2 separate regions of the Homo sapiens genome follow, and region 1 is linked to region 2. The links come from fine-mapping of genetic effects on gene expression. A gene starts in region 2. The other region holds a variant in brackets. All regions are shown on one strand. Distances are from middle to middle.

Region 1 (2,816 bases), 140 kb after region 2:
CTCGTGGAATTATCAAGACTGTCAGAGAATATTAGGTTATCAAATATAAACAATTATTTATTTGTCCTTATAAATAATGACCTCCTCTGAGAAGCTCTTATGATGATATCATCAGTGAAAACAAGGCATTGCCTCTAATAAAAATCATTTTTACCCCCAAAACCACACCTATATTTAAAGGTTATGTCATTATTGAGGATATTTGAAAAGAATGTGCTATTCTGACAGATTTCAAAAGTAAAATTCTAAAACAAAGATTTTCAATCAAGTAGAGCATTGCTGAAAAAAGTAAGGGCATTATTTGGCCATGAATTTAACCATGAGTTTATTAGAATTATTAGATTATAATTAAGACAGTGTTTGTGCTTTTGCAGATTAAGTATATCTGAATGCACTTGCATATCCCCCACCCACCGGCAGCATGTGGGTAGTAGCCTCTGGAAGTGAAACTGTAGGAATGTTTGTGAGAAGGTTCCCAGGGTAGCATAGAGTTAGTATTCAATAGCTTGGTGGCCACATCTTTTCTGCACATGCTTACATAGATTGTGTGGTCTGCTCTTGGCCTTGTTTTTAAGTTAAAGTTTAATGATGCTTGCTTTAAGGCTGCCCTCACTGTTTTTCAGTCATAGACTACTAATGACTGAAGTCCTTTCAACTAGAAAGGGATGACAGGAAAGGTTAAGAGAGAGAGTTGAGAAATGAGAAAGAAAGAACAGAAAGTCATTAAAATTTCACAGGATCAGTACATACAGGTTATTGCACTAGCTTCTACACTGGAGTCCCGAATACGGATCTAGGAAGCACATGAATTCAATAACTAGTTGTATATATGATATATGATGATGACTTTTTGTCAAAATCTTCATGAGCTGGGAAATTCAGCATAGTGTAGTGAAAAATGTAGGGCTCTAGCGGAGACTCTTCTCCTAATCAACTATATATCATCATAGATGACAGATTTAATCTTGGAGTCCATGCTCTGAATTTTGGGGTTATAATCATTTCCCTCCCTACTCCATGATTTGTGTATAAACTTATGTCTGTGAAAGCAGTTTGACATCCAAGTTTTGAATAACCTTACCTCTATTACCACACATTTTGCCTGATTTTATAATCATTCCTTACTGGTTTCTTTCCCATTCTAAGCTGTAGGCTCCTTGAAGCTGTGTTACTTGTCTCAGAAGCCTTAGCACATAGCACAGCTGGGCTGAATAATTGTTATGAGTGAATGTTTTTATAAACAAATTAATAGACAAAGGAGGATGGTTAACAACATTGGGAGTATGGTGCATTCATCACAAGGAATAACATTGTAACTCTGAAATAGTAATGGCAATGGAAGTGCTTGTTAGAAAAATTTTACAGCATCATTTTCATTGATAAAATTAACAATGAGTAGCTCCTAGAAATTAGAAATACCTTTACTTAATCAACTGGCATAGACTACCCATTCTT[G/T]TTTAATAATTAAGTAATGTAGATGCTTTCAGGCTTCAAATTATTATATTGTCCTTATATTATGTTCTATGTTTATTTCTCATACTATGCCTTGTTCCTGATTCAGTTGGGTGTTACTTCTGTAACATTTTTTATGAGAAGAGGGCATACCGATTTAATAATATAAACAGTTCAACATAACTTCATAGGACAATTGAAAATGCTGCATTTAGTTTTAGGAAAATGTTAGCTCTGAAACCTTTAATGGCATTAAATAAAGTGTTTTGTTTATATCAGCCATTCAAATAAAAACAACACGATTTTTATTATACCAGAATAAGCACTTTTACCATTCATTTAATGCTTAATTTGTACGTGAAGAATATTTGGATATTGGCATCTGGCTTGTGTTGTCTTGGAGTAAAGAAAACATGAATGGGAGCTTCCTCCAGTACCGTGTTGGCTGTATGTGCAGTTTTCTGCATGGATGAGATGACTCTGTAGTGTATATTTTACGCAGCATGCTCCTTAAATCTGCTTCAAAGTGTCACTCCCAGGTTTCTTCTTCTGTTTTTCATTCTTTTGCTGCAGTCTTTACAAGTCCAGCTTGTGTGGGCATGTACCCACATTCAGTGTGCATGTGTTTTATGACTCCAATTTAGGCAGCTGTTTTTGAAATGTAGTCTTTTGTGTTTATTTATTTGCTTGGAAATGCTCAGCATTGCTAGAAAGCTCTGTACATAATGGGATGAGGAAAACCATGCAGTGGCTGAGTTCCCGTGGCTGTCAGATGTTGTACTTCAGTAGAGTTTTTGATCGGTTCCTCAGAAGCTTATGTCCAGGGTTCCTGAGTCCAAGTGGGTAGACGAGTTATTATTTATTCTAGCTGGTAAAATGCTGTTTTTTTTCTCTCTCTCTCTCTTTCCTTCCTTTCCCCACACCTCCCCTCACTTCTCCTTGAAAGTGTTATATTGAAGGATTCCACCTAACCCTTATTCCAGGGTTTTAATAATTTCTGGACAAAGAATTTTAAGAAAATATTTCTGTGGCTTGGTGTGGAATACGTCCTATAATTTCCTTTTGGGGAAACACATGAATGAGATGGCTATTGAACGTATATGTTATCCATTTTGTGGACTTTCTGTAGTTTGATTTTTAAATCCTAGACTGACTATCCCTGCAACTCAGGATGCTTCTACATGTTTTCAGAGGTTTATACTATGGATATCCAAAGTAGCCTTAATATTATCTTAGGGACAATATCATTATAAAGTTACTTGATAATTACACTGAATCATTTAATACATTTCAAGACTATACAGATGTAACTTTGGGTAATTTGTGTTCTTCTCTCATGTACCATAATTTAGAATTTATTATCA
Region 2 (2,816 bases):
CCCGGATTCCAGTGACTCTCCTGCCTCAGCCTCCCAAGTAGCTGGGACTACAGGCGTGCGCCACCAGGCCCAGCTAATTTTTGTATTTTTTAGTAGAAACTGGGTTTCACCGTGTTGGCCAGTATGGTCTCCAACTCCTGACCTCAAGTGATTCTCCTGCATCAGCCTCCCAGAATGCTGGTATTACAGGCGTTAAGTCACTGCGCCTGGCCCATACTGTTTACATTATCTTATCTGTTTTAGGTTTACATGTTATTTTTAATGTTCCTGTACATTTAAAAAATTGAAACCAAGAATCTTGACTGGCTCTGAAACTTAATTGGGAAAAATGTAAAGCACTTTAGTGGAATTTTTCCCATGATCTGTAGAATAGTTTTTAAACAGATGGTTCATATGGACAAAGCAATGAAAATGCAGAAATTAAAAGCAGATCCTTAAGAACAATATCCGAGTTCTCAGAAATCCTATAGATGATGTCAGGACGAGATGTAAAGCAGTCGTTTCTTTTGCTGTCAAGGTTTTAAGAGAACAGAAATTTATTAGGTGAACCTCCACCGGAGGAAGGATAAAGCCTGTGGGTAGGAGTTAACTATTTATTTCAAACTCCAGTCCACTTCAACAATTTGAAAATTTTCCCGCTCCTAGGACAATTCCATCCAGGTGCCAATAGGAGATACTACTATTGTGATGCAAATAGGTATTCTACTAGAAGTAGGAGCACGTAAGCAGAGTGAGGATGACTTGAAAAATCGTCCCACCTTCCCAGCTATGGAGTGGGGGCAGGGGGAAGAAACACCTCCAGGCTGGATCATTGAAGCTGAGGGGTGGGAGAGCGACGGGACAATTTTTCAACGTGGAATTCAAATGCATTCGGTGGGGAAGTGTGAAGTAAAATCTAAACGAACGCTAGACAGTAGTATCTTCCATCTACGCTTCAAAATACTCAGACTTTAGGGAAACTTAACGTTGGTTTTTCTCCCAGAGAATTGTAGGGAGTGGGTGGAGGGGACACTGTTAGGGGAGGTATATTGGGAGTCAGATCCTTTTGTGGAGCGAGGGACCCCGAAGTGTCACCAAGGGCTAGCCGAAACCAGGGGCCCAAGAGGGGACAGGGCTAACACCCCAGCCAAGGCCGGAGCGCAAGCGCGGGGCTGCAGCGCGGGGAGCCCTGGAGCCCAGTGCGGGCGGACGGGTGGGGCAGGAGGGCAAAGGGGCGAAGGGGCGGGGTGGCGCTGGGTGGGAGCGCGGCGGCGGGGAGGAGGGTCTGGGAGCCCGGGTGCGATTTGCAAGCGCTCTGAGCCTGCGTCCGCCGAGGGGGAGGGTTTCCCCAGCCCGGCCGGAGTTGCGGCTGTGCGCTGCTTCTGGCTCACAACGCCGACGACTGTCAAGAGAGTTGGGGAGTGGAACTGCCGGAAGTGTCTGCGCGCCGTGAGAGAAACTTTCCTGCTCCGGCCGCGGCCCGGAGCCTCGCCGCCCCCGCGTTCCGAACGACGATGCGTCCAGATGACAACAACCTGAGGGGACTCGCGCCTCGGCCCGCCGCCCGCGCCTGCGCTCGCCTAGCCTCGGGGGAGGAAGACTGAGCCCGGCGCAGGCGGCGCGGCGCTCGGGGCCCGTTTCCTCCGCGCAATCAGTCCCCTCGCGTCCCGGCGCCTTCCCCGCGATCGCGCGACCCCAGCGCCCGCCGCGGCCGCCGGCTGCCCCCGCCCTGACCTCCGGCCCGGACGTGTCCGCGGCCGCCGCTGGCAGCGCCTGTGCCATGGGGCTGCCCACTCTGGAGTTCAGCGATTCCTACTTGGACAGCCCAGATTTCAGGGAGCGCTTGCAGTGTCACGAGATTGAGCTGGAGCGAACCAACAAGTTCATCAAGGAGCTCATTAAGGACGGCTCTCTGCTCATTGGGGCGTTGAGGAGTAAGTAGGGCTGGCGGGGGAGTGGACACCCGCATCTGGAGAGTCCCCGCGGGGTGCGGGTCCGAAGGGTGGGTTGGAGGAGTCGGAGCTTCTTTTGTTTGAATGGATTTGGGGACAAAAGCTGAAGAGCTCCCCTGCTGGTGGCCAACAAAGTTTGTTCTTGAGGTGTTCTTTACTTACTCACATGTCTACAGGGATGGGGAAAGTTCTCTACAGGGCACTGGAATATATCCTGAGGAAAGTCGTTCAAAGTCATCTCGTTGTGTAATGCTCCTAGGAAGATGTTGGGGACTTTAATTTTTTTTTTTTAATTTATTGTGTCTATTAATAGTTTGAACTAAAAAAGCCCTTAAGGGGGGAATCAAGAGTTTGTCTTAAAGATAAAATTAGGCTAGTTTAGTGATATTGAAAGAAAATTATTAATGTCTCTCATACGTCAGTGGCTCTTCATTGGACACAGTCATTGAGTTGGCTTTTTAAAAAGCATACATTTGCAGTTTTGCCATTTTGTAAGATAATGGAAGACAGCAAGGCACCAGTGCATTTTAACTCTGCAAGTTTTCTGTGCGTCTTAGTTTTGGTTTGCATTGTGTGGGTGTTGGGTGTGTCATTGGGATGAAAGTTAAGGGGTTAAAGGCCAATCAGAACTTTTGATGATCTGTAGAATATAAAGACTGTTATAGTCTATAATATAGGGCTTCTTCCACCTCCTTTCCCATACACCTCTTGATCAAATTTTCCTTCCTCCTTTTATCCTCTGGATCTTAGCTTTCAATTCCTAAGACCTAAGAGTATCTGAAACTGAAGAGTTTCTCTTACAGAGAATTGAGCACAATTACATGATATGGCTTGTTACCTTTCCCAGGAGGTATTTGCATCTTTTAAAAAATTTATTTTTATTTA

Which allele goes with the higher level. Positions count from the first base shown, and alleles are read on the strand shown. Sizes are in standard deviations (SD) of each study's normalised expression.
For the expression in iPS cells of the gene that starts at base 1,369 in region 2, allele T in region 1 goes with a higher level than allele G (moderate effect, 0.48 SD a copy in HipSci).

Evidence for each region. PIP is the estimated chance that this variant, and not a neighbour inherited with it, causes the effect.
Region 1: its variant is the best candidate, but not a certain one, in a credible set for the expression of ARHGAP42 in iPS cells (HipSci, PIP 0.87).

The regions. Positions count from the first base shown.
Region 1 is chr11:100,823,732-100,826,547 of GRCh38, forward strand. The region is part of intron 3 of ARHGAP42 (Rho GTPase activating protein 42); the gene reads left to right. Among named protein-coding and RNA genes, the nearest start is that of SNORD13I, 110 kb to the right of the region's middle. The variant G/T (reference allele first, on the strand shown) is at 1,456.
Region 2 is chr11:100,685,920-100,688,735 of GRCh38, forward strand. ARHGAP42 (Rho GTPase activating protein 42) reads left to right here and starts at 1,369. Exons shown (of 24, transcript NM_152432.4): 1 at 1,369-1,913. The coding sequence starts at 1,760. It overlaps ARHGAP42-AS1 (ARHGAP42 antisense RNA 1), which reads right to left and starts at 2,036. Exons shown (of 2, transcript NR_133571.1): 1 at 1,714-2,036. RefSeq lists silencers at 739-1,033, 1,084-1,273, 1,574-1,743 and enhancers at 970-1,680, 1,394-1,443, 1,764-2,133.